Homo sapiens: one gene and its partner. The protein of the gene in region 1 interacts with the protein of each later gene in a biochemical or structural test. Each region holds a gene or a part of one and is shown in the gene's direction. Other genes may lie near its edges.

The links. Proteins that work in one complex are often made in the same cells at the same time.
Region 2: the proteins of TUBG1 (region 1) and PXN form a complex in vitro, tested with the Homo sapiens proteins (one study listed by BioGRID).

The regions. Positions count from the first base shown.
Region 1 is NC_000017.11:42,612,683-42,617,788, forward strand, and holds the end of TUBG1 (tubulin gamma-1 chain), read left to right. Parts: intron 1-264; coding exon 265-391; intron 392-964; coding exon 965-1,051; intron 1,052-1,166; coding exon 1,167-1,316; intron 1,317-1,577; coding exon 1,578-1,730; intron 1,731-1,813; coding exon 1,814-1,975; intron 1,976-2,161; coding exon 2,162-2,359; 3' UTR 2,360-2,556; downstream 2,557-5,106. UniProt on the Homo sapiens protein: Tubulin is the major constituent of microtubules, protein filaments consisting of alpha- and beta-tubulin heterodimers. Gamma-tubulin is a key component of the gamma-tubulin ring complex (gTuRC) which mediates microtubule nucleation.
Region 2 is NC_000012.12:120,217,231-120,221,755, reverse strand, and holds part of PXN (paxillin), read left to right. Parts: coding exon 1-133; exon of another isoform or gene 134-441; intron 442-830; exon of another isoform or gene 831-1,664; coding exon 1,665-2,549; intron 2,550-4,525. UniProt on the Homo sapiens protein: Cytoskeletal protein involved in actin-membrane attachment at sites of cell adhesion to the extracellular matrix (focal adhesion). Recruits other proteins such as TRIM15 to focal adhesion.

The DNA.
Region 1 (5,106 bases):
GAACTGGAGCCTAGAACCTGAGCCCTGGATGAAAGTCGAGGGAGTGTGGCCAGGTCTCAATTTGGAAGCCCAGAGTCTAAGATGTCTCTGCCCTTCCCCCTGTAGGGCTACAGACTTCCAAAAGTCAAGGCTCCCTTCTCTACTGATTTGACCCCACCCCAGTTTCGCCATCAAGATTTATCTGCTTCTGGACAGTTGTTAGGGAGCGCCATGTTCACCAGGCCTTCGGTCTGTTGCCCTGATCCTTTCCCCAACCCCCACCAGGTATCCTAAGAAGCTGGTGCAGACATACTCAGTGTTTCCCAACCAGGACGAGATGAGCGATGTGGTGGTCCAGCCTTACAATTCACTCCTCACACTCAAGAGGCTGACGCAGAATGCAGACTGTGTGGTGAGTCCTGGATTCTACCTCTCCCAACTCTCAACACCCCATACCCACTCGAGTCTATTAAATCATTTTCATGTATTTAAAAAAAATCCATTTTAGCCAGGTGCAGTGGCTCATGACTGTAATCCCATCACTTTGGGAGGCCAAGGTCGTTGGATCGTTTGAGTTTAGGAGTTCGAGACCAGCCTGGGCAACATGGCGAAACCCCATCTCTACTAAAAATACAAAAATTAGTCGGGAGTGGTGATATGTGCAGAAGGATCACTTGTGCCTCAGAGGCAGGGGCTGCAGTGAGCTGAGATCATGTCACTGACTGCACTCCAGCCGGGGTGACAAAGTGAAACCCTGTCTCAAAAAACAAGAACAAAAAAAAAAACTGTTTAAATAATTAAGATGAAAAGAAAAATTTAAAAATCCATTTTGAGCCCTCCTTTGCCCTAGGTCAGTGCAAATCTCTTTCCAGTGAGTCTTTCTGGCCATGAAGCTCAAAGGAAATTAAGCTTCAGAGCCTAGGGTCAGGCAGAGCTCCTGTTTTTCTTATCCCCATTGATCTGTGATCCTCTTCTGTCCCCCCAGGTGGTGCTGGACAACACAGCCCTGAACCGGATTGCCACAGACCGCCTGCACATCCAGAACCCATCCTTCTCCCAGATCAACCAGCTGGTGGGCCCCCACTCCTGGACTCCTTTGGACTTGAAGCCCTCCTTGTTGGAGGGTCATTTGGGGAAGGGAGGTCCCACCCAGGCTGAGGCCCATAACATGGCACGCCTGTCCCCAGGTGTCTACCATCATGTCAGCCAGCACCACCACCCTGCGCTACCCTGGCTACATGAACAATGACCTCATCGGCCTCATCGCCTCGCTCATTCCCACCCCACGGCTCCACTTCCTCATGACCGGCTACACCCCTCTCACTACGGACCAGTCAGTAAGAGCAGCCTTCAGTGTCCCAGGCCAGGCCGGCCCTGGGCCCAACAGGCCCTGTCCTAGCCTTTCTCTCTTCCCCACTGCCCCAGGAGCTACCCTTTGTGGACCCCAAGGCGCGGCGCTCAGGGACTGGCACAGAGTGGGCGACTTTCTTGCTGACTTGCTCTCCACCCTCCCTCTGCCTTTGGCTTCTGCCAAAGAGAAGCCAAAGGGGGACTGTGCCCTGAGCGCTGGCCGGGTCCCTGTCTCACTGTCCTATCAGGTGGCCAGCGTGAGGAAGACCACGGTCCTGGATGTCATGAGGCGGCTGCTGCAGCCCAAGAACGTGATGGTGTCCACAGGCCGAGACCGCCAGACCAACCACTGCTACATCGCCATCCTCAACATCATCCAGGGAGAGGTGGACCCCACCCAGGTAGGGGAGGCCCCTTCATCCCACACCCTGGACCTGCAGGGGTAGAGGAGAGGCCACCTCCACTGCTCCTATGCCCACCCCAGGTCCACAAGAGCTTGCAGAGGATCCGGGAACGCAAGTTGGCCAACTTCATCCCGTGGGGCCCCGCCAGCATCCAGGTGGCCCTGTCGAGGAAGTCTCCCTACCTGCCCTCGGCCCACCGGGTCAGCGGGCTCATGATGGCCAACCACACCAGCATCTCCTCGGTGAGTCTCAAAGTTTGCACCTTTTTTCCCTGAATCAGTTTCCTGACTATACCTCACCTCTCTGCATCTGCTGGCCCTGCTTCTAGCTTTTTTGCTGTGGGCATAGCCCAGCCTTGGTTCCCCAGCTTTCTGGGCCACGTTATTCTTTGAAGTTCTTTGTAACCCCTGTTTTCTGCACACCCCAAGCTCTTCGAGAGAACCTGTCGCCAGTATGACAAGCTGCGTAAGCGGGAGGCCTTCCTGGAGCAGTTCCGCAAGGAGGACATGTTCAAGGACAACTTTGATGAGATGGACACATCCAGGGAGATTGTGCAGCAGCTCATCGATGAGTACCATGCGGCCACACGGCCAGACTACATCTCCTGGGGCACCCAGGAGCAGTGAGTCCCCCAGGACAGGGACCCTCATCTGCCTTACTGGTTGGCCCAAGCCCTGCCTGACTGACCACCCCCTCAGAGCACAGATCAGGGACCTCACGCATCTCTTTCTCATATACATGGACTCTCTGTTGGCCTGCAAACACATTTACTTCTCCTCTTATGAGACTATTTATCTTTAATAAAGCACTGGATATAAATCAAGTCACTGCTCCCTTTAAAGCCTTTGGGTTCTGGAGATGCGGTGGGGATGCCTGTTCTTTCTCCATCATTCTGACAGGGTCCTCACCCACTTCCAGCATCTTCAATTCTGAACCAACAGCTTCCCCTAGGTTTTTCCTCTGCCTAGTTTTGGAGAACGCTGGTGGGGTTTGACCCACCTGAAATTCCTTTCCAGGGTAAAAAGGCCCAGAGATATTACTTTGTTCTCTGTCTGACCCTTTCTGGGTCCCCGTTCCCTCCCACCCTCACTGTATCAGGTGAATATTCCACCAGCCTCATGTTTCCACATCAGAGTGTCTGATTAATCACAACCTGAGGCCCAAGGCCACCACCACTGCCACTAGGCCATGAACAAGCAATGGAGTCCAACCCAATACCTTTAAGCTTCTAGCAAGCAGTCCAGGAGAGCCGCTCGTTTCAGGCAGTTGGAGTCTAGCAGCATCAAGTCAGCGACCAAATCTAAAACCTAGACTGTAAGCAGGATCATAAGTGGTTCCATAGCTAAGGCACCGTAATTCTCTTCTCTAGTGGTTGCCAGTAATTTAAATGGCCAGTGCCTTCTACTTCTGGTGGAAGATTGCAGGGAGGTAGTAAATACATAGGGGCCTAAGTCTTCAGGATTGTTTTTTTTTTTTTTTGAGATAGGGTCTTGCTCTGTCGCTTTGTCACCCAGGCTGGAATGCAGTGGCATAATCACGGTTCACTGCAGCCTCGACCTCCCTGGCTCAGGCGATCCTCCTGTCTCAGCCTCTTAAGTAGCTGGGATCACAGGCACACACCACCTAAATCTTCAGGATAAAAAGGGCAAAGCAGGTTCTCCTTAGAGCATGGTGGGTTGTCAGGGCCCCATTAGGCTCTTATACACACCATAAAGTTATATAGTAGTGACAGCTAACACGCACACATACGCTGTGAGAAGTACATTATTTTGTTGAATCCTCACAACAACCCTATGAAGTGGTAGATACTAATTTTTTTTTTTTTGAAATGGAGTCTGGCTCTATTCCCCAGGCTGGAGTGCAGTGGCATGATCTCGGCTCACTGCAAGCTCCACCTCCCGGGTTCCAGCAGTTCTCCTGTCTCAGCCTCCCAAGCAGCTGGGACTACAGGTGCCCGCCACTGCGCCTGGCTAATTTTTTTGTATTTTTAGTAGAGACGGGGTTTCACCGTGTTAGCCAGGATGGTCTCGATCTCCTGACCTCATGATCCACCTGCCTCGGCCTCCCAAAGTGCTGGGATTACAGGTGTGAGCCACCGCACCCGGCTGGTAGATACTAATTTTTAAAATACAATAACAAGGCCGGGTGCGGCGGTTCACGCCTGTAATCCCAGCACTTTGGGAGGCCAAGGCAGGCGGATCACCTGAGGTTAGGAGACCAGCCTGGCCAATATGGTGAAACCCCATCTCTACTAAAAATACAAAAAGTTAGCTGGGCATGGTGGTGCATGCCTGTAATCCCAGCTACTCAGGAGGCTGAGGCAGGAGAATCGCTTGAACCTGGGAGGCGAAGGTTGCAGTGAGCCGAGATTGCGCCACTGCACTCCAGCCTGGGTGGCAGAGCAAGACTCCGTCTCAAAAAAAGAAATAAAAGTAAAACAATAAGGCCGGGTGTGGTGGCTCACGCCTGTAATCCCAGCACTTTGGGAGGCTGAGATGGGCGTATCACAAGGTCAGGAGATCGAGACCATCCTGGCTAACATGGTGAAACCCTTTCTCTACTAAAAATACAAAAAAAAAAACAAATGAGCCAGACATGGTGGCAGGCGCCTGTAGTCCTAGCTACTCGGGAGGCTGAGGCAGGAGAATGGCGTGAACCCAGAAGGCGGAGCTTGCAGTGAGCCAAGATCGCGCCACTGCACTCCAACCTGGGCAACAGAGTGAGACTTTTGTCTCAAAAAAATAATAAAAATAACAATAAAAGTACAAATAAAAACCAATACAGTATAACAATGATTTACAAGCATTTACCTTGTATTAGGTACTACAAGTAATCTAGAGATGATTTAAAGTACTGTACAGGAGGATGTGCATAGGTTATGTGTAAATTCTACACCATCTTATATATTTTCTTCTTTCTGTTTTTTTTTTTTTTTTGAGACAGTCTCACTCTGTTGCCCAGTGCAGTGCAGTGGTACCATCTCGGCTCGCTGCAACCTCTTCCTCCCAGGTTCAAGCAATTCTTGTGCCTCAGCCTCCCTAGCAGCTGGGATACACACATGCGCCGCCATGCCCAGCTAATTTTTGTATTTTTTGTAGATATGGGGTTTCTCTATGTTGGCCAGGCTGGTCTCGAACTCTTGACTTCAAGTGATCTGCCCACCTTGGCCTCCCAAAGTGCTGGGATAACAAGCATGAGCCATGGCCATATTTTATTTTTTCTAAACCATTTTATTTAATTAAGGATCTGCAGATTTTGGCATCCTTGGGTGTCCTGGAACCAATACCCTGTGGGTACCAAGAGACAACTGTACTTGCTCACTATTGGCCTAGGAATGTACTTTTCCTTCTATGAACCTGTTTATCTTTCATGG
Region 2 (4,525 bases), on another chromosome or scaffold:
TGCCATCACTGTGAACCAGGGCGAGATGAGCAGCCCGCAGCGCGTCACCTCCACCCAACAGCAGACACGCATCTCGGCCTCCTCTGCCACCAGGGAGCTGGACGAGCTGATGGCTTCGCTGTCGGATTTCAAGGTGCCCTGTGAACCCTCCATCTTCCCTGCCCTGCCGCCCCTCCCTCATCCTTCTCCTCCCTTACCTCAGTGTGGGTAGCTGGATCTTGGCATCTCAGTGTTTGGGTGCCTTGCCCCTGAGCCAGGGACACTGTCATGCCCTGGCCTTGCTGTGATGCCAGGAGATGGGGAGGGAGGGCCGGGTCAGCCTGCCTGAGGATTGCAGTAGCCAGTGAAGGCAGACAAGCTGGAGAAGTGCTCAGCTGGGACATTCCTTCCTCCCTGGGTGCTCCCAGCCTCTCAGGTCGAGGGGATCAGGAGGCTGGGACGCTGGGACAAAGAACCTTGTGTTGATGGCTGCTCTGGGTGGGGGAGGGCATTCTCTGCTGGGCCATGTGGGACTTGGGAGCCTGTGCCTGGGAGGTCATTTGCCCTGGAGCCCCATCTCCCACGCTAGCTGTCCTCAACACATCCTCTTTCTTTCTGCCTCTGATCCTGAATCCACAAGCCTCCCTTGCTACTCTTCTCCCATCCTTCCCTCTCGCCCTCCAGGGCCTCTGAGTTCCCACGAGCGTGTCTGTGGGAAACCATGGGGCCAGGCTTGCACGAGGTACCTGCCCTTCCCCTCCCCTGCTGGGCCTCCCCAGTCCTGCCAGGCCTGAGATGTTTAATTTAGAGGATTCAGTGTTTCCTTGGGGATTGATATTGACAGAACTCACCAGCAGCTGCTGACTTCATACTTCCACGTGGGTCAGCTGGAGACCTTTGGGGCATGACCTAGGGAATATGAGAGGGGAGTGAACGGTCCCTGCACCCTTGGCCCTGATGGTGTCTCCTAGCCTCCCTTCAGCTGAGGTTTCATGGTGGGAGACAGGAGTGTGGCTGGGGTGGAGGGTTGAGCCTGGCCCTGTGACCCTTGCGTGCTATAGTTCCAGCTCCAGGCCAGTGGTTCTGAGCAGCCATGGTCAGAAGCAAGTAAGTTGGATTCAGGGCCTGGCCTGAGGGAGCTGTGCCCCGGTGCTTTTAAGGCTGCCGTTTTCTCAGACAGCCTGTGTCCTGATGCCAGGAGAAGCAGCAGTGGTTTTAGTCAGATCCCTGGAGCAAGGATGTGGAAGACGTAGAGGACTTGGGGTGTAGGAAAGCTGGGATTGTCCGGAGGGACATGGCCGAGTTGGGCCAGTGTCCGAGGCGGGTTCAGCAGCCCCTGGGGCTGGCTCTCCCTCCATTTGTGCCTGGGGCTGTCTTCCGTAGCCACCTGGCTCCCCATTTGTCCACCTTACCGTGGTCTTTTCTTTCTCATACCCTCCCTGGGTGGCTCCACAGGCACGGCTTGGTGGCTGCTTTCTCTTGCTTGGGTTTGGTGAGGGCTAAGCACGCAAAGCCCAGGGAAGCTTTTTTGGGGTCTGGGTCTCCTTCAAGGGTCAGTCCTGTGCGTCAGCTTTGCAGCCACCTTGGTCAGCCCTAAGGCCGAGCCCACCGCCTGCAAGGTGCAGCCGTCCTCACTCCCCTCATCTCTCTCTCTCCTCTCCCCTCTGCATTTCTCTCTTCTCCAGACCAGCTCCTCCACTGTGGCTCTGAGTGCCCCGGGGCTGTCCAGCTCTGCTCCGTCCTCATACTGCTCCCTTCCTCCTTCTCCTCCTCCCATGCCATCTGTATTTCTGCCACCCACCACTATACCCTCCCCTCGAGGCCAGGGCCACACTCCGGAGTTCCCTTGTACTGAGCAGAGTGGACGAGGCCTTCTACCTCCTGTAGCCCCCAGCTGGCTTGATTTGGCTGGTCTTGGGGTGATGCCTGACACCTTCAACTCAAGGTCTCCCTCTGTGGAGGGTTCTCTGTGGGCAGTGGGCACAGAGAGTCAGGGTCGAGATTGGAGGCACCTGCCGACCATCACAAGTGAGCTCTCTGGGGCTCCCCGCTGCCACACTGTACCCTGTGCTGGGAGCACAGCTCTCCAAGAGCCTGGGGAGCCCCAGGGGCCACCAGCCAGCCCTTCGTGCCCAGAGGAGGCCTTGGCTGCCACATGGGAGCAGCCATGGGCTTCGGAGGTATTCGGGCCTGAGAGAATGCCCCCCTCTGGAGCTGCTCGAAGCTTCCAAGAAGTAACAGAGCCAGCTGTAGTGGCAGTGGACCGGCAGGCCATCTTCCCAGATACCTGGACTCTCACGGAGGAACATGGCCTACAGCAGGAGAGGCCAAGGCCAGAGCCAGGGAGGCTGGGAAGCAGCTCCCCTGCCTCAGTTACCACGGAGCAGCTAGGTGCAAAGATGACCGAGAGGGGAAGTGTGGCCAGGCCAACCCAGGGACCTGAAACCCCAAGGAGCCCAGAGGGCACCACGGAAGCTGCCACCCAGGACGGGAAGGAACAGCCAGAGCTTCCATGTGCCATGGCCATGGGCACACCCAGCACCACGGAGAGGATTTCCACCTCTGGCCAGGCAGGCACCAGCTCGCATGGCTGCTGGGCATGGCCATTGGCGGGTCTGAGTGTGGGCCGCTCCTCGCTAACTGCATGCAGCCTCCCACTCTGCGCATGTCTGCTTGGGCAGAAAATGCTGAGACACTGTGGCCGGACCTGACAGTCAGCACTTGGCAGTGGGCTCTGTGGACCCAGCATTTCTCATAGCGTCAACCCACCTCTTGCCTTGTTGAGGCTTTTTCCTTTCAGATGAGCTGTCCTTGACATTCTGATGTGGTGAAATGGTTAGCAGCATGGACTTTGGAACCAGATAGACCTAGATACAAACCACATGTCTAACACTTGCTACCTCTGTGACCTTGGGCAACCCCCTCCCTCAGCCTCAGTTTTCTCATCTGTAAAGTGGGGAGAATTTCCATCAAGATTGTCCGGAGACCTAAATGAGATAATTCCTGGAAAGTGTTTAGAACACAGCATGTGGTCCCTCAATAGGCCGTGGCTGACAGTACTTTTATTACTTGCTTTTTGCTTAAATTAAAACTTTATGCCGGGCCAGGTGTGGTGGCTCACGCCTGTAATCCCAGCACTTTGGGAGGCCGAGGCGGGCGGATCACCTGAGGTTGGGAGTTCGAGGCCAGCCTGACCAACATGGAGAAACCCCATCTCTACTAAAGATACAAAAAGATTAGCTGGGCATGGTGGCGCATGCCTGTAATCCCAGCTACTCAGGAGGCTGAGGCAGGAGAATCACTTGAACCCAGGACGCAGAGGTTGCGGTGAGCCAAGATCATACCATTGCACTCCAGCCTGGGCAACAAGAGTGAAACTTGGTCTCAAAAAACAAAAACAAAACAACAACAACAACAAAAAACTTTATGCCTCACCCTGGCACAGTAGCTTATACCTGTAATCCTAGCACTTTGGGAGGCTGAGGCAAGAGGATCGCTTGAGCCCAGGAGTTTGAGACCAGCCTAGGCAACACAGTGAAACCCTGTCTCTACAAAAAATTAAAGATTAGCTGGGCGTGGTTGCACATGCCTATAGTCCCAGCTGCTGGGGAGGCTAAAGCAGGAGGATGGCTTTAGCCCAGGAGTTTGAGGCTGCAGTGAGTTGTGATCGCACCACTGCATTCAGCCTGAGCAACAGATCAAGACACTGTCTCAAAAAAAAAAAAAAAAAAAAATCCCCCAAGCTTTATGCCTCTTTGGAAAACAAAACGAAACAACCAAAAACCCCCAAAACACTACCAACAAGTATAATAGCATAATATAATATTAGCATAATAATATAAATAAGAAAAAAAAAACTAGTTAAAAAAGTTCCTGGCTAGCTGAGCACGGTGGCTCACACCTGTATTCCCAGCACTTTGGGAGGCCGAGGCAGGCAGATCACGAGGTCAGGAGTTTGAGACCAGCCGAACCAACATGATGAAACCCCATCTCTACTAAAAAAAAAAACAAAAAACAACAACAACAAAAATTAGCCAGGCGTGGTGGTGCATGCCTTTAATCCCAGCTACTCAGGAGGCTGAGGCAGGAGAATCTCTTGAACCCAGGAGGCGGAGGTTGCAGTGAGACCAGATCGCGCCACTGCATTCCAGCCTGGGCGACAGAGCGAGACTCTGTCCCCCCCCAAAAAAAAGTTCCTGGAAGGAAACACTTTTTCTATTATAAATTAAAAAAAAGAAAAAAGAAAAAGCCGTATGCCTTGTCAAGGGCATGCACTTACATCCTCTGGAATAATTCTTGTGCAAACCCTGTGCGGTAAGCCAAGAAAATCTTGTGGTTCCATTTTAAGGAAGGGGAAGCTGAGGCCCATGGCAATTAAGTGTCTTGCCCAAGGTCAGTGGCCAACTTAGAGGTGAATGCTGGGTCAGAGGTCTCGCTCGCAGCCTGTGCTTCTGGAGCCAGTCCGATCTGCCCCCTCCCCTTGCCTCTACCCACCTCCACCGGTCCAATCTGCCCCCTCCCCGTGCCTCCACCCACCTCCGCTTGG